Regions from separate parts of the Homo sapiens genome. Here region 2 is linked to region 1. The links come from fine-mapping of genetic effects on gene expression. A gene starts in region 1. The other region holds a variant in brackets. All regions are shown on one strand. Distances are from middle to middle. Region 1 holds the start of ADIRF-AS1 (ADIRF antisense RNA 1). Region 2 overlaps MMRN2 (multimerin 2).

Evidence for each region. PIP is the estimated chance that this variant, and not a neighbour inherited with it, causes the effect. A credible set is the group of variants that fine-mapping cannot tell apart.
Region 2: its variant is the best candidate, but not a certain one, in a credible set for the expression of ADIRF-AS1 in whole blood (TOPMed, PIP 0.87).

Annotation. Positions count from the first base shown.
Region 1 is chr10:86,966,227-86,976,685 of GRCh38, forward strand. ADIRF-AS1 (ADIRF antisense RNA 1) reads right to left here and starts at 5,014. Exons shown (of 2, transcript NR_170185.1): 1 at 2,816-5,014; 2 at 1-102. It overlaps ADIRF (adipogenesis regulatory factor), which reads left to right and starts at 2,256. Exons shown (of 3, transcript NM_006829.3): 1 at 2,256-2,379; 2 at 3,974-4,036; 3 at 4,250-4,689. The coding sequence starts at 2,319. The coding sequence ends at 4,356. It overlaps LOC124902474, which reads left to right and starts at 5,179. Exons shown (of 3, transcript XM_047426123.1): 1 at 5,179-5,338; 2 at 6,887-7,031; 3 at 7,943-8,589. The coding sequence starts at 5,179. The coding sequence ends at 8,054. It overlaps AGAP11 (ArfGAP with GTPase domain, ankyrin repeat and PH domain 11), which reads left to right and starts at 4,110. Exons shown (of 11, transcript NR_171046.1): 1 at 4,110-4,689. RefSeq lists enhancers at 189-942, 783-962, 3,202-3,955, 3,956-4,707, 4,544-5,743 and 1 more and silencers at 3,066-3,360, 4,942-5,491.
Region 2 is chr10:86,941,613-86,952,071 of GRCh38, forward strand. It overlaps MMRN2 (multimerin 2), which reads right to left. Exons shown (of 7, transcript NM_024756.3): 2 at 3,949-4,077; 3 at 3,758-3,864; 4 at 3,576-3,656; 5 at 2,650-2,823; 6 at 705-2,516. Among named protein-coding and RNA genes, the nearest start is that of MMRN2, 11 kb to the right of the region's middle. RefSeq lists an enhancer at 3,032-3,605. The variant CA/C (reference allele first, on the strand shown) is at 6,109.

The DNA.
Region 1 (10,459 bases):
AGTAACTGAAACTGCAGAAAGCGAAATCACAAATTAGCTGGGGGTGGTGGCTCATGCCTGTAATCTCAGCTACTCAGGAAGCTGAGGCAGAACTGCTTGAACCTGGAAGGCAGAGGTTGCAGTGAGCCAAGATCCCGCCATTGCACTCCAGCCTGGGCAACAAGAGCAAAACTCTGTCTCCAAAAACAAAAAAAGGGAAAAAAAAAAGTGACACCACAGCAAACTGGGGCGGGGGTGGGGGAAACGGTAATGCGGTAATGCGCTCCCTCCTTCTGCCTCTCCTTGTCTGAGAAGCCCTGGTGCCCTGCACGCTCTCACAAGGTCCACTGCTGAGTCCTGGGCACCCTTCAGCCAATTTAATCTTCACACACACACTTTGGGGAGACGCTGTGATGTGATGGGGATGTTGAGGCTCAGAGAAGTGAGGGGCTTGCTCTAAGAATATCTGAACCCAAGAGGTTTGACTGTAGTGCCTGCCGCTAGGGCCACGTGGAGCTCTCTCTACCACCATCTGCTGGGGGCTGGCTGTCTCTTCCCACAGAGGCTGCTCCCTTCCTGTCCAGCTCACAGCTCATTGCCCATGGGGCCTGGAGCCCAGTGGCACCACCAGCCTGTGATAAACTGGAACACTCGAAGGCCTGCCTGGCTATTGGGCACTACCGGTGGGATTTCAGGAGGGCTGGCAGGGCTGTGGCCAGCCAGGCAGGGCATGGCTGAGATGGGCTCCCCAGAGTCCCCAAGGCATCCATATGGCCGCTCCCAGGGCAAGGCCTCGCTCTGGGAGAGGAGGGGCGGGGGGCTGGGAGGACTGTTGCTGCCGCTTTGTTTTGCCTGAGACCTGCTCCCTCCCCCTTCCTCCACCTAATCTCATCACCTGCCTCTTCCCTTTGCCCAGGGTTGACCTCATCTCCATTAATCCATACCGTGTGTGTGTGTGTGTGTGTGTGTGTGTGTGTGTGTGTGTGTGTGTGTGTACAGGTGCACTTCCAAACAACTCCCTCTAGGGGCTGACCCCGCAGCACTAGAAGCAGGGTATGTGCCAGCAGACCAAGCCTGTGTGGCAGGGGCTTCCCAGCGCTCCAGAATAGGGGAGACACCAGCAGAGGTGCAAGAAACAGCCCCGGACAGGAAGCGGTAGAGAGACCCAGAAAGGCAGGGTGGGTGTGCACTGGCCTCCAGGTCCTGAAGGCCTACTCTGGAGTGGGAGTATACCCAGCTGGGTGGGGCCTGACCTACACCCCTTGTGTGCCAGGGGAATGTATCTTGCAAGCTGTTTTGCTGCACCCAAGGATGATCTTCTCCACTCAGGCCCAGGTCCCTAAGTCCCCTCCTAACAGCCACAAGTCATACTCTCTAGCGCCTTGCCTGCCCCATCTCAGGAAAGGTGACCTGAGAGGCCCAAGCTTATTCCTGCCCTCCCTGAGCCATGCTTCCTGCCCAACTTCCTAAGGCTTCGGTGACAGACGGCAATCTCCTTGCCTGGGCTGCACAGGCACACTGCCCTCTCCCCCTTGGGGTTGCATGGTCTGCAAGTGCACACACCTGTATCTCGCCCTCTCAGGGGAAAGATTTACCAGGCCCTCTCCGGCTGCATCCACTGGGTCTCTGGCTACAGGCAGAGAGCCAGTCAGCAGTGCCCCTGCAGCTGTTTGGGGCTGGGGGCTCCGATGATGCCAGAGCCCTAGGGTTTACAGGCACCTAGGCAGATTCGAGGATCCAAGTCCCTGCCACATGCGTTTGGGTGAGACCGACCTCACTGCCTCAGTTTCCTCCTATACACTGATGCTATCAACAAAAATACCCACTTCAGGAGGTGGTTGTAAAGATTATACAAGAGACTGCAGAGCGTTAGGCAGCACCTGGCACAAGACAAATGCTCAGTAAAAGACCACTGCTGTCATTAAGGTCAACACCAGCCCTGAGCTCCTGCCCTGGAGCTGACCCAGCGCTCACGCCCAGGATCAGAAAGGGAGGGCTGGGGCTGATGAGCTGGGAGGTGGTGTGCGCCCTTCTCCTGCCTCCAGCTCCTCTCTGGACCCCTGTCCTGGCACCTCTTCGGTCCCTGGTTCGGTCTGCCCCTTTCCCACCGCGGCCCGTCTTAGGCCAGGATGTGCTCCCTGCCCTGCGGACTCTGGAGCAGGGCCCGGCCACTCCCCGGAGCCTGTATGACGGGAACCGCCCCGCGCCCTCTCCCCTACGCGGGGCAGGCCAGCCCTGGGGCGCCTTAAAAACCGGAGCTGGCGCTTGGCATCGCCACTCTGGGCAGGATCCAACGTCGCTCCAGCTGCTCTTGACGACTCCACAGATACCCCGAAGCCATGGCAAGCAAGGGCTTGCAGGACCTGAAGCAACAGGTGGAGGGGACCGCCCAGGAAGCCGGTGAGGATAGCGCGCGACCTAGGGCTCAGGCAGGGGCACCTGCGTGGATGCGCAGGCAGAAGCAGCGGGTCGGCGCGGTCCGCAAGTTCCTGGACCGGCAGCTTGGCTCGGAAGGCTCGGTCCTCCACTGAGACGCAGGGGGCAGGCAGAACGCCCACCCCGGCGAGCAGACAGATGGTGCCCGCAGGGAGGCAGCGGAACAGAGGCTCCGGAGGAGCCGGAGCTGCGCTGCGGGCACTGCGGGAGCCCCTCCAAGGAGGCCATGCTGGCGCTGGGCGGCCCGCCCAGGCCCTCAGGAGAGGGTGAAGGTCCAGGACAGGGATCGGGCGCGGCCCGCCACCACTTAAACCCGCGCGCGCCACCAGAGGCTGCCCCAGACCTCAAAGGGCTTTGTTTCCATCCCACCCCCATCGCCGAAAAGTAATCGTCGCCTTACCTTTAAGTCCCCACCTGGCAAAGAAGGTCCTTAGTTCCTCCACCTCCAGCTCTCTCCTCCGTATTCTGGAGGTGACCCAGCTGCGGTGGGGGCGTGGGAGATGTCAGGAGACCACTGGGTTGGTTCTTCCTGCACCTAGCCCAGGCTTCGTTAGGACTCCAGCTCCCTGTCAGTCCTGCCCATATCCCAGTCAGGAGACAATATCCAAACCAACCCCTTACTTCACCAGTGCTCCAGGGGAGGCCCACAGTTCTTCCCTTGAGACTGAAATGCTACCAAGGAAGCCTCCGTGTCAGGTCCCTTCCTTCTGGGCTTCACTTTTCCATCTGAGAGCTGGGTGCAAAGGATGGGCTGCTTTCTGATGGGTTAATCGAGACGAGGTTCCCAGGGGCCTCTCAGCACACTTGCCTGACTAACCCTTTCCGGAGGATGGGATCTGGGTAAGGCAGGCCCTTTCCTGTTCAGCAGCAGGGATGAGTTACAGCTCTGTAGGCGGGAGCCACCTGTCAGCCCCCCCGGGGCTGGTGACTCCATTCCCAGCAGGCCGAAACTCTGGTCCAGAGGAGATAGTCCGGCCTTGGAAGTTTTGCCTCCTTCCTTCATTTGTCTCCTAATGTCTTAAGCTGCCTGTCCACAGAGGCACTGGCTTTGCTTGTGTGCCCCTCCGGGCAGGCCACAGGAGGGAGGAGGCAGTAAGGACCTGGCAAAACTGCAAGCCCCAGGGCTAAGTGCATGAAAGGTGGGAATTCAGGCATCTGGGCCAGGCTTCTAGGGGAGAAGCTGTAAAAGGGGGCAAGGGTCTTCTGCGCCATCACCAGCATTAGCCAACAGTCCAGATGCTAGCTGCAGCCTGGCCCTGCCCTGCCTTCCTTCCTCTGTCCAACATTTTCTCAGTAGCCCTGGAGATGGAAAGGGAAGCTCCTCCCCCACAGAGAAGGAGCTCAGAGTTAGAAATAAACAAAAACATCCCAGAGGCATGGAAAGGTCTCCTGCCCCTCGGGCTGGGGGGCCCTGGGCCAGGGACTTTATCTCCATGGCATCCATCCCTTGGACCTGTACCACCGAATACTCTGGAGGACACAGAGGCATGGCAATGGTGGGGCACCTGTAGTCGGTGGTGCCTCAACAGGGGCTAAAAGCCACATCTCTCTGTTCCAGTGTCAGCGGCCGGAGCGGCAGCTCAGCAAGTGGTGGACCAGGCCACAGAGGCGGGGCAGAAAGGTCTGGTGGGGCTGGAGGGAGGCGGGCAACCCCAGCACACCTCCCACTCCCCGCCCCATCCCGGCTGGGGCCCAGGCACATCCTCTCCTCTGCAGAGCCCTCTGTCCACAATGCCCCAAGCAGGTCCCCCGGGAGACCCAGGCCAGGCTAAGCCTACAGGCACTGTGGTTCCCGGGCCCTGCCTGACCTGCCCTCTCTCCCGCCCTTCCCCAGCCATGGACCAGCTGGCCAAGACCACCCAGGAAACCATCGACAAGACTGCTAACCAGGCCTCTGACACCTTCTCTGGGATTGGGAAAAAATTCGGCCTCCTGAAATGACAGCAGGGAGACTTGGGTCGGCCTCCTGAAATGACAGCAGGGAGACTTGGGTGACCCCCCTTCCAGGCGCCATCTAGCACAGCCTGGCCCTGATCTCCGGGCAGCCACCACCTCCTCGGTCTGCCCCCTCATTAAAATTCACGTTCCCACCCTGTGTCCACTTCATGATTCCTCGCAAGCTGGGCCCAGTCCTCTCATCCCAAGAGCAGAGCCACCGTAGCCGGAGTCCTAGCCTCCCAAATTCGGAAATCCAATCCAACGGTCTCAGGAATGTTTTCCATCCCGCCACGCGCCTCCCGAAGCTCCCAGACCGGAGGCTCAGCCCCCATCTCGGTTAGTGCCCCTCTCCCGCCCGACTTTAGAGCCAGCCCCTGCCCCTTATTCCCTGCCCCAGGATCCCGGCCCCTCCTGGGAGCTGGGCTGGACTCGGTCCTCAGATCCTCGGAAGGCTCAGCTCTGGGCGGGGCAAGGGACCTTGCAAGTCGGGGGGGCCTCGGGAACTTCTCTCCGCCAGCTGCGACTGGAGGCTGGGAACAGGGGAGACGACCCAGGGCCACGGCCCCTCAGGACTTCAGGCGGCCGGAGGTTGTGGGGACGAAGCGGAGTCGGGAGCCGGGCTTCCGGCCCTCACTACCCCGTCTCGGCCCGCGGGTTGCCTGCGTGCCCGCCCCACCCAGCGGTGAGTCATGGGGCAGGGCCCGCGGGAAGCTTTGTTGAGTGGGGCGCTGCCGCCCGGCGGGGTCCCGCCCCGCCACTCCCCGGGGAGGGGCTTCGGGGCACGGGGCCGTGCACGTGAGAACGAAGCACGGTTGTGGGGGGGGCATGCACGTGCGCGCTCGCGTGCGGGAGACCCCTCCCTTCCACACCACTTCCTTTCGGGACAAACCGGTAACCTCCGGCCCTGGAAGGTTTTGTCTAGTGGGTTCCGGATGGACTGGTGTTCCCAGCACCCCCCCGGCACGTGTCCACGCGTGTGGCCCCGGTACGGTGTATGCCTTGCCAGTAGGTGACTCAACGTGGCACTGGTTGAGCGCCGGATGAGGCCTGGCCCTGGCGCGGGGCGTGGGCTGCTGCGGCCCTTTCCTCCCCGCGCCCCTCACGCCCCAGCGGGCCCCTAGCGGTTCCCGTCCACCCGCTCCATGTCTTTACCCCGGTACTACCTCCACCTGCAGTCGCCTCCTCCTGCGCGCCAGTGGCCTCTGCGTTTCTGTTGAAAGGTACCGACTACGCGGTGCTTCCCAGTTCTGAGGCGATTTAGTCAGCGGACTCAAGGCGCGCTCCCTGCCTTCCCCGGCCTCCCAGCAGGGGACGAAGTCCCCAACCTGGCTGCCAGTCCAGATGCTGCAGTACAGGTCTGCCTAGGAGGCCGTTCCCTTCTCCAGTCTGAGATCTCCCTCGCGGGGCACGTGTCTACCACCCTTAACCCAGGGCTGCCCTGGTTCCACTATCGGTTACATGTTGCTGACTGTCCCCAAAAGGTTTCTTTGTAGAATGTGGGAAAGTCCTTGAAGAGACACCCGGAGCAGTGTCAGGGGCGCTTCCAGGAGCCCCTGCCTCCAGGAGCAGGTCCTAGGGTCTGGAGAGCCGGCCTCAGGGCCACTCCAGGAGGCTGGTGGGGCTGGACTGGCAGAGCCCAGCATCCTTCTGGTGTGCATCATTCCCCTATGACTCAGGGATGAATCCCAAGGGACTTTTCACTTGTTCTCCTTGTGAGTGATCGCCTTAAGTGCGACCCAGGTGCGGCCAAGGAGAGAGATCAGGCCTGAGGCCAGGAGTCTTCTAGAAAAGGCTTTTCTTGTCTTGAAGGCGGGGCATGGTGGCTCAGCCTGTAATCCCAGCACTTTGGGAGGCTGAGGCGGGAGAATGACTTGAGACCGGGAGGTCGAGGACCGCTGCACTCAGTCTGGGCAACAGAGTGAGACCCTGTCTCAGAAAAAAAAAAAAAAGCCGCCCTTCATCTTCCTCTGGACACCTTGTGGCTGGAAAGGAACCCTAGAACCAGCCACTTGGAACCACAGGAGGAACAAGTCTGAGGAACAAGTCTAAGGAAAAGCCCACCTGCTGATGAGGGCAGAGCCTCCCAGACCTCCAGCCTGTTCCCACAACACCCCCTCCCTTCCATCTCAGCCACCTTGACCTTCCCATCATGCTCCTGCTGCCTCGGTATCTTCACACCTGCGGCATTTTCTGCCTGGCATACTCTCCATAAATCACCCTTGCCTATTGCTCTTCCAAACGTCAGGTCTCAGCGGCCTTGGGTGTGCCGACACACACACACACACACACACACACACACAATATGCATCAGGCCCCTGGTGACACATTCTCACACCCCCTGTACCTCCTTTTTAGAGTCACAATGAGCCTTCATGTGTGCTTCTCCATAGTGGTGGTTCATGGGGCTGTAACCAGTCCCTTTTTAGTGCATGCTCTGTGTCTTCTGCGGTGCTCAGGCAGCACTGGCTAAATGATTGCATGGAGGACCATCCTTTTGTTCTCCTGATGGATGACAGTGAGTTCTCATTTTCAGGTTTACCATGGAACCATCTCTGCAATGCAGCCCCTTCCACATTGCCCCAGCCCCATGGAGCTGGTGCTCCGGTGGCGCTGTGCAATTGCCTGTTCCTGTGTGCCTCTGCTCCCCCGACACTAGGAGCCCTGGAGGGCAGGGCCAGGTGGGACTTGCCTTTTGAACCATGTCTGGGACACAGAGGGCACAGAGCCAGTGTCTCTGTAATAGGTCCCTTGCCTGATGGCAGGGCAAGTCCATACACCCGAAACACCGGGTTGCAGCAGAAGAAAGAGGTTTAGTCGCAGGGCTGCCAGACAAGATGGGAGAAAACCTCAAATCTCTCTCCGAGAAGTTTGGGGTTAGGGTTCTTAAGAGTTTTAGAGCAGGCCAAAGTGTGGAGATTGTTGATTTGTTGAAGAGTGCGGAGTGAAGTCATGGGGCCAGGGAGATGAAAAAACTGTATTCTCATGCTGATTATGTTCTTCTGGGCTGTTCAAACTGGTTGGGGTCACTTGTTTCACTGGAATTTGGAATCTGAAAAACATTTTAGGCTGGATGCGGTGGCTCATTCCTGTTTTCCCAGTACTCTGAAGGCCAAGGTGGGCGGATCATCTGACGTTAGGAGTTCGAGACCAGCCTGGCCACATAGTGAAACCCTGTCTCTACTAAAAATACAAAAATTAGTCGGGTTTGGTGGCGTGCGCCTGTAATCCCAGTTACTTGGGAGGCTGAGGCAGGAGAATTGCTTGAACCTGGGAGGTGGAGGTTGCTGAGCCAAGATGGTGCCGCTGCACTCCAGCCTGGGCGACAGAGTGAGACTCTGTCTCGGAAAAAAAAAAACTGAAAAAACAAACGAAAAAAACGTTTTAAGGAATTCCTAAACAAAAGCCTATGATTCTAACATCAGAAAGCCGAACTGTGGGAACAGTGGGGATGCAGATGGTCAGTATACAGTGCCACGGGAAGTTCTATAGAAGGAATTTAGTTAAAGCACAGCCTCATTAATGCTTAATTATAACTGTTAATTTTTAATTATAACTGTTAATGCTTAATTATAACTATATTTCTGTGTAGAATGCTTGTTAACCCTGTGAGGACAGCTTCACCAGAGGAGCCCTTGGGAGCTTATACTGCCCAGGCCTGTCTCCACCAGGTTCATGGAGCAAGTACAGCCCAGACTGGCTGAGGAGGAAGGATTGTGGCCACACTACACCTATTGGGTGTCAGTCAGTCCTCCAGAGATCAATTCTTCCATTAGCAATGCCACACATAATTCCTAATTCTCCAAATTCCAGTTCCCCATCTAGCCAAACACACAGTCACTAACATTACATTGTGGTTCCACTTACAAATGACTGCATTTTCAGGTGGAGGTGTTCCCTTAAACCATTTTCTCTGGATGGCGTTCCTTCCTCCCTCTTCTTCTTCATCCCCATTTTCAGTCCGTAGGATGAGCTTCTTTGTATGTAATCTCCCAAACGTCTACCGCTGGAGTTCTCAGCTTTGACCCCCATCAGACTACACATGAGGCAGGGTGCAGATTCTTCCACTTTCACCTCCTCTCCCCTTCTCTCCCTCCGCCGCCTTTTTAAAAAATGTTACTTGTCCCATTTCTACATTGTGAAAACACGTAGAGTTGCATTCCATTCCTCAGCCCTGAACCACACCTTTGTTTTTGTCTTGGATCTGCAATTGAAGATATTAAAAGCTGTTTGCCATTCCTTCTGCTGAATATTTTCTGCTATCTCTTGGTTGGTTAGAATTAGTCCTGCAGAGTCTTCTCTCTCTCTCTCTCTCTCTCTTTTTTTTTTGAGACAGAGTATCACTCCTGTTACCCAGGCAGGAGTGCAGTGGCACAGTGTCCGCTCACTGCAACCTCCACCTCCCAGGTTCAAGCAGTTCTTCTGCCTCAGCTTCCGGAATAGCTGGGATTACAGGTGCCTGCCACCACGCCTGGCTAATTTTTGTATTTTTAGTAGAGATGGGGTTTCACCATTTTGGCCAGGCTGGTCTCAAATACCTGATCTTAGGTGATCCATCAGCCTTGGCCTCCCAAAGTGCTGGAAGTACAGGTGTGAGCCACCGCACCCAGCCCAGAGTCTTCTCAAGAATGAAATAGTTAAAGATGATAAATGTTTACAGAGATAAGACATCTGATATCTGAGTTAATAATTTCTATAACTGGGTAATGGGTCCATGAGGGTTCATTTTATTTATATATATATATATATTTATTTATTTATTTATTTATTTTTTTGAGACAGAGTCTTCCTCTGTTGCCCAGGCTGGAGTGCACTGGCATGATGTCGGCTCACTGCAGCCTCCGTCTCCTGGGTTCAGGCGATTCTCCTGTCTCAGCCTCCTGTCTCAGCTCATGCCTGTAGCTGGGATTGCAGGCATGTGCCACCATGCCTGGCTAATTTTTGTATTTTTAGTACAGACAGGGTTTCACTATGTTGGCCAGACTGGTCTCGAACTCCTGACCTCAGGTGATCCTCCCACCTCAGCCTCCTGAAGTGCTGGGATTACAGTCGGGAGCCACCGTGCCCGGCCCATTATATTCTATTTTTGTGTATGACATTTTCTATTTTTAAAACGGTAAAAAAGTTAAAATAAAAATTTTATAAAAAGAAGGGCTTATGTGAACAGTATTCTGATTTTTAAATGTTTGGTTGGTATTGTTAGTCTGTAGCCTTTAGACTTTATCCCTGGCTGGGTTTGAGGTTTGTGGCTCCCTCTTCAGCTTCAGTGTCTTCTAGGTGTGGCTGCAACTGCCTTCTGGCACAGAAGGTTGAGCAGACCCTACATGTCTGATGCACACTGAAATTTCTTTTTTTATTTTTAATTTTAATTTATTATTTATTTTGAGATGGGGGTCTCACTATGTTCCCCAGGCTGGTCTCAAACTCTTGGCCTCAAGCAGTCCTCCCACCTTGGCCTAACAAAGGGCTGGGATTACAGGTGTGAGCCGCTGCACCAGCTCCCTACTGGAATTTTTTTTTGTAGAGACAGGGAGGGTCTGGCTCTGTCACCCAGATTGGAGTGCAGTGGCCTGATCATGGCTCCCTGCAGCCTCAAACTCCTGGCCTCAAGCAATCCTCCTACCTCAGCCTCCCAAGTAGCTGGGATTACAGGTGTGTGCCACCATGCTCAGCTAATTAAAACAAATTTTTTTTTGTAGAGGTGGAGTCTCACTATGTTGTCCAGGCTGATGTCAAACTCCTGAGCTCAAGTGATCCTCCCACCTCAGCCTCCCCACAGCACTGGGATTACGGGTGTGAGCCACTGTGTCCAGACTCCTGCAGGAATTTCTAATAAGCAACATGATATTTCTGGCTTGTTTTCTTTCTTTAAGTTTAAAGTACAATAATTTTTCTAGAGTTTGTCTCAATGATTATGGCTCTGGTTCATTGTTGCCTGGTGTGCAGTTTGCCCTTTGAATACTAATTCAAGGCTGGGCGTGGTAGCTCAGGCCTGTAATCCCAGCACTTTGGGAGGCTGAGGTGGGAGGATAGCTTGAGCTCGGGAGTTTTAGATCAGACTGGGTGACAGTGATACCCCATCTCTACAAAAAATAGGAAAAGTATCCAG
Region 2 (10,459 bases), 25 kb before region 1:
CATAGCAAGACCCTGTCTCTACAAAAAGTACAAAAATTAGCTAGGCATGGTGACACATGCCTGTAAGTCCTAGCTACTCTGGAGGCTGAAGTGGGAGGATCAGCTGAGCCTGGAGAGGTCTAGGCTGCAGTGAGCCATGATCCCACCACTGTACTCAAGCCTGGACGACAAAGTGAGACCCATCTTAAAAAAAAAAAAAAAAAGAAAAGAAAAAGAAAAAAAAAACAAAAAAAAAACTAAAATCATGGAAAATGAAACAGAACTAAGTGGGGCTGCAAGTGGCCACAGTCCCTATCCACATTCTTCCTAGATACAGTGGCTTAAACGCACATGGGAATGAAGGGGGTGAGGTGAAGAGATGAGATGGGGGGACTTGAAGGCTGCCCTGGCAGGGCAGGAGGCGATGCCCTCTCTGTAGCAGGAGCAGTAGGCGGCACTATTGTGCCTGTGGCCTCCAGGCTATGCCGCTCACGGGCTCTGGCACTAGCAGGTGGTTCTTGTGACTTCTGTCTCCCCATAAGCCAGGTAGCTTGAGAGACCCACACCCCTGAGAAGCAGGTGGGCCAAGGGGAAGGTGGACCTAGTAGGGGTGACGGATGGCCATCCTGTTCTCTTTCTTCCTGGCCCTCTTGGAGGCAGAAGAGCTGCCGGCAGCCGGCCCTGGCCTCCTAGGCTCGTCCAGTCTCCCCAGCCCAGGAACTCACCTGCCTCCCAGAGCGCCGCGCCCAAGGCACCTGGCACAGGCCCTGTGACCCGTATGTCCACCAAAGGCTCCGCTTCCTTCTTGTCCCTCTTCCGGGGAGCTTCCAGGTCTTTCTGCTGCTTCTTCCCTTTCCTGCTCAGCATGGTCTGCAGCTTCCCCAGGTCCAGGCTGACGTTGGCTTCCATGAGCCCTTGGAAGTTCCCAAAGAGGCTGTGGAAGAGCCGCTGGTGCTGCTCCAAGCTGCGCTGAGTGGCGAAGAGTGCGTTGTGGAGGCCGTGAAGGGAGGCGTTGAGGGAGGCGGCCCCGGCCCCGGCCTCGGCCTCGCAGCACCGCCCGACATTCTTGACGTCGTTGCTCAGGCTCTGGAGCTCCCGCGCCAGCCCGGCCAGGGCGGTGGTGGCGGCCTCCTCGCGGCCCGCGTCGTGGCTGGGCTCCAGGTGCTCTGCCGGCCGCGGGGGCTCCGAGGCCTGCTCCAGGGCCGTCACTCGGGCGGCCAGCTCGTCCCAGCCGAGCGCCTGCTCCTGCAGCCCGCTAGCGGCGTCCTGCAGGGCCACGCGGATCTGCTCGTAGCTCAGGGGCAGCGGTCCCGGCGTCTGCTCAGACATCTCCTCCAGCACCTCCTCCCCGAAGAGCGCGGCCAGCACCGCCTCGTGCCGCAGCGCGTCCTCCAGCAGGGCGGCGAAGGCGCTGTGCAGCTGGCGCACCTCGTGGCGGGCCTCGGCCGCGGCCGCCTTCAGCGCGCCCACCTCGTCATCCAGCGCCTGCACTTGGCTCCGGAGCCGCGACGTGGCCGCCCGCGCCCGCTCGCCCTCCGCTTTGTGCGCGTCCACGGCCAGCGACACGGCGTCCACGGCGTTCTGCAGGGCCTGCAGGGAGGAGCCGTCCAGCTGCCGCCGCTCGTCCAGGCTCACCTGGGTCTCCTCCAGGGCACGCGTGGCGTCCCTCTGGCCCTCCCGGATGACGTCCAGGTCTAAATAGAGCTTCTGGCAATTGCAGTCCTTCACGTACTTGATGAGGTCGGCATGGCCACCCTGCAGGTGCTGCAGCGTGAGGTTGAGCTCCAGGAGCTGCCGCTCCACCTCCTCCTTGTTCTCCTCCATGATCAGAGACTTCTCCATCAGGATCACGCGCAGCTCACGGAGCGCCGTGTGGTTCACCTGCAGCTCCTCCACCTGCCGCTCCACCTTGCTAATCTGATCGAAAGTCTCGTCCGATTCGGAGTACAGTTCCTTGATCTCATCCACGTGCCGGGTCAGGGTGGCCCTCATGTCCTCCAGGGTGTACTGCAACTCCTCCTCCCTGCGGGCCGTGGTCATGTGCAGCTCTGAGAGGTTCCTCTGCAGCTGGCCCAGCCTGGCCTGCAGGCTGTCCGGCTCAGGCCTTGCCCCAGCCCCAGGCGTTGCCAACACCAGACTGCCATTGGTCCCTGGGGCCTCCTGAGCCTTGTGCAGCCTCTTCAATTTGGTGTCCACATCGGCTTGGAGCTCTGAGATCGAGCGGTGCAGGGTAAAGTGCTGGGCGTGCAGGCGGTCCTCCACGTCCTGTCGCAGCTGACCCACTCTCTGAGTGTTCTCCTGGACCTTGGCCTCAAATTTGGCACCAAGCTCCTGGAAGTCAGCCCTGGCCACGGCACTGTCCTGGACTCTGGAGATGGCCTGGCGGTTGGCCTCCACGTCAAGAGACAGGTTTCTTATGGCCTGGGTAAGGCTGTGCAGGCTTTGGTTAAAGCTCCTCCAGATGGGGCTGAAATGCACTTGTAGGAAGGTGTCCACGTGGGGTAGCAGCACCTGCTCCAAGGATCTATCAGGGAACTCTGCAACAGACATGTGGTGTGACACAAGCCCTGCAGGAGCAGACACTCCTCCCAGGCTGGGACCAGCGGGGTCCTCCCCTCCTCCCCTCAATGTGACCAGGCTCTTCCTCAGCCCCTAGAGCCTGCCACTCACCGTGCCCTGTTTGATTTGCTTCCATCACTGCAGCTGTGAGGTTACCAGGCAGGGCTTTCCACAGGCCTGGCAGGCTGTCTGCCACCCGGTGCACATCATTCTGGAGATCTCCCAGCAGATGTTCCTGCTGTTCCTGTTGCACCTCAACCTCATTGATCACTGCAGCAAGGTGGCCTAAATACACAGCAGACATAAATGTCAAGGGCTAACTCACCAGGCCTGGGAAGATCACAAGGTTCAGAGAAGGAGAGTTGAAGGCTGAGAGCAGGGAAGTTAGCTGCTGATGTCCTCTGAGCAGGAGCTTAGAAGCCTTAAACCCCTGGAGGGCAAATGCATAGCAAGTGAGCCCTCACCCTGCCTCCTACACCTACAGCAGACATGACTAATCAATCATGGTACACTCCCCTCCTCAGCACATGCACATGGCCTCACAACTTCATTCTTGGCAGCCCTTGTCAATAAATACTTCACCACATAATGAAACTCATTTACTTTCTCAATCTTGGGCCCAGCCTTAAAGGGCCCTGCTGCAAATGGTGTCTCTTGGTGGGTTTCCTGTGCTGACTCCAAGACCAAGGACAGCATGACTTCCTGGCTCTGGTTAGGGCTGTGGGAAAGGGTGAGAATGCTTTTTCCAGGCACAAGGGCTTGTGTGGTTCAGCGGGGCAAGGAAAGTGCCAGATGAACCAGTCCTTCCCAGAAGATGGGGTGAAGGAAAAGGGTGTGTGTGCTTGGCCAGTAGGCCGCTGGGGGCCCTGTGAGCCTGGCCTTCAAGGTGGGAGGTGGTACAGGCCACAGAGCAGGCCTTGCTGATTCTGGAGGCAAGGTTTCCCTGAAATGGCACTGCTGTATCACAGGAAAAAGGGCCAGCTGGCTACATGGGCCCCACCAGCCTGCCTGCCTTCCCCTTCCGGAAAGCAACACACCAGGTTTGAAGCTGACTGGTCCATCCTGAGGTTCCTGGTGGCTGTCACCAGGATCTGCAGGCTCAGGGATTGCCATGGAATCTGCAGAAGAAAGCATTAGTTATTGACCCCAGTGGTCAGAGGAGCTGCTTGACCTTGGGGATCAGAGGTCAAGGGGGGAAGGGGGCCGCAGGGAGCCCTACCGTGGTGCTCGCAGTTGGGGCCCGTGTAGCCAGGGCAGCACCTCCAGGCCAAAGAGGTCAGCACCTTCTGCTTGACCTGGTACACTGGCTTGTGGGCCATGCGGTACCTGGAAGAGGAGAAGGGCTGGCTCAGTGATTCCAGGGAGGGCCCGCTCCAGGCCTGGGCAAATGGCCCACCCTCCCCTACTCACATGACTTTGACTTTCTGGCAGTCTGGAGCTCCCTGCGGACACGGCTGCTGCGAGTGGATGAGGAATTTCTCTGTTTTGCAAAGAGCTAGTAAGGTGACCAGCTTGGACATTGGGTAGGGGCACCAGTTACTGGAAAACAAGCCAGAGGAGAAGGCTGCTGAGCCACACCCAGGTCAACAGGGGGTGCCAGTGCAGAGCCACCGGTCCTCGCCTCCTGCCGGAGCAGTGCTGGGATTCTGGAATCCATTATCCTGAGAAGAGAGCCTTCCGCATTATTCATCCCTGGGCTCCAGAGCAAATGTTTCACAATCCCTACCTGCAAAGAGGGCACCTGCTCCACCACCTTCCCGAAGCCTCCCCGAGCCAGCAGAGAGGCTGAGAAACCCACCACAATCTAGAACTGTGAAAAGCAGCTCCAGGGTGATGATTGTTTTAGCCAACAAAACTAACAGCCAGAGTGTGGGGAAAACACCGTGTGCACTGCAGCTGTCTGCATGGATTCCCTTTGGTGAGGTTAGCCACAGAGCCAGAAAGCTCTCGCTGTTTCTCCTGCTACCAACGTGCAGCTGGGGCTGGAGAATCCTGGGTTCGAATCCCTCACACTTTCTGGCTGTGTGACCCTGAGTGAGGCACTTAGGGAGCTTCTCTTTCCCCATCTATACAATGGCGATCGTAATGCCCTCCTTTAAGTGGGCAGAGAAGCACCAGGTGCCTGGCTCCTGACAAGCGTTCTGTGAACACAGCTCCACTGCCCCATTCCAGCTGCCCTGGCAGCCTGCCCAGTTGCTACTTACATGAGGGACCAGCTCCCTGGCCATGCCCATTAGGACCATTCTAGAAAGGGACTTTCAAACAGTTGTCCTAAGGAAAGGTAAGCAGCTGGGTGGAGCAGTGTCCTCTCTGGGATGGCCACCGCATCAAGGTCATGCAAGGTGGTTGGGGGTCACACTCAGCATCCCGCACACCTGATAGGTAGCCCTTCCATCCTGGCCCTTCACCAGCATGTACTGTGGTGGTCCCAGGAGCGGGGGGACACTCATGCTGACAGAGCCCCAGTTCACAGACCCAGTGGCTGACTCCATGGGGTCAGTGGCAGTGGTCAGAGAGCCCTTCCCCAGGCAGCCAGCTCCCAGAACAGAGCTCGTCAGAGTTGAAAGTGGCAATGATCTCTGTGGCACAGTACAGCTCAGCACCTCTTGGGTGCCGGGTGCTGCACTCAAGCTCAGGGTGTGGATGTGGAGGTGCAGACTTTCCCTTCAGGATCCCCAGGGAGAGCGGGCACTCTTAGAATGGGTGAGAAGTGCTAGGATCTGCAGAGACTTTCAGGAGAAGGAGCTAATGGGGCTGTGTCTTAAGGCCAGAAAGTCGGATGAGGCACCAGATGTGACAGGGGTGCAAGAGGGTGAGGAAGGGGCTGCAGAAGGAGGCTGGGATGAAGGGAGAAGCCAGACCTCAGCGGAGGAGCTGGCCCATGTCCTGAGGGCATGGGAAATCATGGAGGGGTTTCAGCAGGGAAGTGGCATGAAAGAGCCACCCTGGTCCCTGGGTGCAGAGATGATGGGAGGGCAAGACGTTGGCAGCTGTGTCCACGGTCTGGGGAGAGATGATGGCAACTTGGACTGAGTGATGGTGGACATGGGAGAAGTGGCCACATTTGTGGGCTCTTAGAAAGCAGCATTCAGAGGCCTTGGTGATGAAGTGGCTGTCAGTGCCGGGATTTTATTCTCTGGAGCCGGTCTTTGTCCTGGGGCCATCAAGCACTGTCACACAGGGGATAGTGTTGGGAAAGGCAGGGGCGGGGGATTCGAGTGACTTTTTTTTTTTTGAGACGGAGTCTCGCACTGTCGCTTGGGCTGGAGTGCAGTGGTGCAATCTCGGCTTGCTGCAACCTCCACCTCCCAGGTTCAAGCGATTCTCCTTGCCTCAGCCTCCCAAGTGGGCTGGGATTACAGGTGCCCACCACCAAGCCTGGCTAATTTTTTTTGTATTTTTAGTAGAGACGGGGTTTCACTATGTTGGCCAGGCTGGTCTTAAACTCCTGACCTCGTGATCCACCTGCCTCAGCCTCCCAAAGTGCTGGGATTACAGGCGTGAGCCACTGTACCCAGCCGAGTGACCATATTTTGAGTGCTGAGTCCCCAGCCTGCTTTACCCTCTCAG[CA/C]GCAGACTGGAAAAGTTTCTCAGGAAAATAAGCCAGCCCGAGAGGAAAAGACCCAAAGCTGCTGACAGCAGGGGTTCTCCCATAAAAATAGCCAACCAGAAGATCCTATGACAAAATGGGTAAGAAAGGAGTATTCATACACCCCAGCTTCCAGTCAGTTTCTCAGTCTTTCTCCTCTTAAGTGAGCAGACATCCAAGATTTACCCAAGAAACACTGTATTCCAAAAGAGGGCCAGGTACAGTGGCGCACGCCTGTAACCCCAGCACTTTGGGAGGCTGAGGTGGGAGGATCCTTGGAGCCCAGGAGTTTGAGTCCAGCCTGTGCAACGTAGTGAGACCTCATCCCTACAAAAAATTAGCCAGGTGTGGTGGCGCATGCCTGTAGTCCCAGCTATTCAGGAGGCTGAGGTAGGAGGATTGCTTGAGCCCAGAAGTTTGAGGCTGCAGTGAGCCATGATTATGCCACTACACTTCAGCCTGGGTGCACAGCAAAACCCTATCTCAAAAAAAAAAAAAAAAAAAGAGGTTGAAGTGGGCAAACAAAAAAATGTCAACCTGGACAAAAACTAAGACTGTGTAAGGAGAAGAGAACCACTCAAACATTTGTACTAAGATTTCCAGGTTGATAAAAGAAATTACTGCACCCAAGAAACAAGACCAGGAAGCTATGAAAAAAACAAATGAGGGGGAGATGGGAGAGGAAGCGTGAGCATTCAGAAAACAAAAAGGAACTCTTGGAAATTAAAAACGTAACAGTAAAAATGAAAATAAATTTAATGGAAACGTTAGAGGGTAAAGTTAAAGAAATTTCCCTAAAAGAGCAAACAGAGAGATGAAAATTGGAAAGAGAAAAGAAAAATAGACGACCAGTCTTGCAAATGTAACATCCAAGTAGTACAAATTTCAGAAAGAGAGAACAGATGGAGAAAATCATCAATGAAAAAAAATCAGGCCGGGCATGGTGGCTCATGCCTGTAATCCCAGTATTTTGGGAGGTTGAGGCAGGAGGATCACTTGAGCTCAGGAGTTCGAGACCAGCCTGAGCAACATGGCAAGATCTCAATCTCCACAAAAAAATTAAAAAATTAGCCAGGTGTGGTGATGTACACCTGTAGTCCCAGCTCCTCAGATGGCTGAGGTGGAAGGGTCCCGTGAGCCCAGGAGGTTGAGGCTTCAGTGAGCTATGATTGCGCCACTGGACTCCAGCCTGAGCAAAAGAGCGAGACCTTGTCTCAACAACAAACAAAAAACATATTCCAGAAGTTAAGGACTTCAATTTCCAGATTAAAAGCACCACCAGTTACCTGCAATATGATGAAAATACACTTACATCAAAACATGTCATATGAAATTTTAGAACTCTGGGAACAAAGATGGTTTCTACGTGCTTCCAGAGAGGAAAACCAAGACAAACACACTCATACAAAATCAGTAATTGGAATGGCTTTGAACCTCTCAACAGCAATATTGGAAACTGGAACACAGTGAAAATTGCATTCAAAATACTGAAGAAAAATAATTTACAACCCAGAATCTCATATCCAGCCTAACTATGAACCAGTGTGGGGAGTGAGAATAAAGACATTTTCAAACAACCCAGGTTTCAGAACATTTACCTCCCATGTATCCCAGTAGGAGACTACCTGATGAGCAGTGGTTTGAAATATTGCCTGCACATCAACACCATCATGCAAGCCAGGTGTGGTGGCTTGCACCTGTAATCCCAGATACTCAAGTGACTGAGGTGGGAGAACTGCTTGAGGCCTGGAGTTTGAGATCAGCCTGGAGACATAGTGAGACCCCATCTCAAAAAAAAAAAAAGACACCCAAAAACAAAACCATTGTGTGACACTTTAAAAATAATAGTCTTGGGGCTGGGTGTGGTGGCTCATGCCTGTAATTCCAGCACTTTGGGAGGCCAAGGCAGGTGGATCACTTGAGGTCAGGGGTTCCAGACCAGCCTGGCAAACATGGCAAAACCTTGTCTCCACTAAAAATACAAATATTAGCCGGGCATGGTGGTGCACGCCTGTAATCCCAGCTACTCGGGAGACTGAGGCAGGAGAATCACTTGAACCCGGAAGGCAGAGGTTGCAGTGAGTGGAGACTGTACCACTGCACTCCAGCCTGGGTGACAGAGCGAGACTCCGTCTCAATAATAATAATAATAATGATAATAATAATAATAATAATAGTCTTGGGCCAGGTGCAGTGGCTCATGACGATCATCCCAACACTGGGAGGCCGAGGCAGGAAGACTGCTTGAGACTAGGAATTTGAGACCAGCCTGGGCAATATAGTGAGACTTCATCTCTACAAAAAATACAAAAAATAATAAAAAGAGGCCGGGTACGGTGGCTCATGCCTGTAATCCCAGCACTTTGGGAGGCCGAAGCAGGCGGATCACGACGTCAGGAGTTTGTGACCAGCCTGGCCAACATAGTGACACCCTGTCTCTACTAAAAATACAAAAAATTATCTGGGCATAATCTCCTAATTATCCTAGCTACTTGGGAGGCTGAGGCAGAAGAATCGCTTGACCCGGGAGGCAGAGGTTGTGGTGGGCCAAGATCACACCATTGCACTCCAGCCTGGGTGACAGTGAGAGACTCCGTCTCAAAAATAATAATAATAATAAAAAGAAAGAAAAATAATAGTCTCCTAGATCCCCTGAGCTTAGGGCCTGAGCACCAGCATTTTAAGGCTCTCTGGGTAATTGCATGGCACACCCAGGATGCAGAACCGTGGTGTCACAGGAAACACTCTAACAAAACAACAGAGAAAATCAAGAAAGAGAAAGCACAAGATCAGGAAACAGGTTCCAACACAAAAACCAGGTGAAGAGAGCCTCCAGAATGACAATGGGCTGTGGTATGAGGGCAGCAGTTCACATTGGAACACACCTGGAGGCTCTGGGAGCCACATCTCCAAGAAGATGCAGCTGATCTGACACCTGGCATGAATGAGTGTAGAGAGCAGATGTGGACAACTGGCTGAGGGTGTGGAGTTGAGTTAGTGATAAAGACACAGAATAAGCAGAAGAAAAAAGCAAGACATGAAATTTTAGAACTCTGTGAGTTCTAAATTTTTACTACAGGGAAAACCAAAAGTGTGCAAGGGGGCAAAAAAGTTTCACAGTTTATTTCAAGGCTTAATGCTGAGCAGTACACATGGCCCTATGGATGCGTGCACATGCATTTGCTTTGGGGTAGGAATGAGATCTAGCTCATAGATAATGCTACTTCCATCCCAGCTACTCGGGAGGCTGAGGCAGGATAATTGCTTGAATCTGGGAGGTGGAGGTTGCAGTGAGCCAAGATCACGCCATTGCACTCCAGCCTGGGCAACAAGAGTGAAACTCCATCTCAAAGAAAAAAAAAGATAATGCTACCTCCTAAGAAGTAGCAATGCAAGCATGTTCTTTAGTGATACAGAGGTAAATGCAAAAGAATCACCTGCAAAGTTGAAAGTCATTGCCCTTGGGACCAGAGGGAGCTGGGGCTTCTGACTGTCTCAACAAGCCTTATAGAACCAGTTGACTCCTAATCAGGAGATCAGCAAACTTTTTTTCTAAGGGTACAGGTAGTAAATATTTGACACAAGGCCAGCTACATAATCTTCAGGGCCCAGTGCAAAATGAATATGTGGGGCCTCTCCTTCAAAAAGTATGAAGAATTTCAAGATGGTGACACCCAGGGTGGGGCCCTCCAGAGTGCAGGGCCTTGTGTGTGACTGCACAGGTCACATGCCCCTGATGCTGGCCATGGTTTCAGGCTTTCCAGGCCACATGAACTCTGTCCCATCTACTCAACTCTGCCATTGTACCACAAAAGAAGTCAATGACAACATATAAATGAACCAGCCTGTCTGTGCTCCAATAAAACTTTGTTAGCAAAAACAGGTGATGGGCTGGATTTGGCCCACTGGCCATAGTTTTCTGACCCCTGCCTATGAGTATATATAACTAATAAAAATGAAACTTAAAAAAAAAATCATTTTCATCAGGAAGAGAAAATGCAGATGAATAATCAAGAACAGTTTGGAACCTGGACACAGTGACTCATGCCTGTAATCCCAGCACTTTGGGAGGCCCAGGCAGGAGGATCACTTGAATGCAGGAGTTTCAGACAAGACTGGGCAACATGGCACAACCCTGTCTCTACAAAAAATACAAAAATTAGCTGGGTGTGGTGGTGCACACCTCTAGTCCCAGCTACTTGGGAGGCTGAGGTGGAAGGATTGCTTGAGCTGAGGAGGTGGAGGTTGCAGTGAGCCGACATTGAACCACTGCACTCGAGCCTGGGTCTGCCCTGTCTCAAAAGAAAAAAAGAAAGAACATTTTGAAAGAAA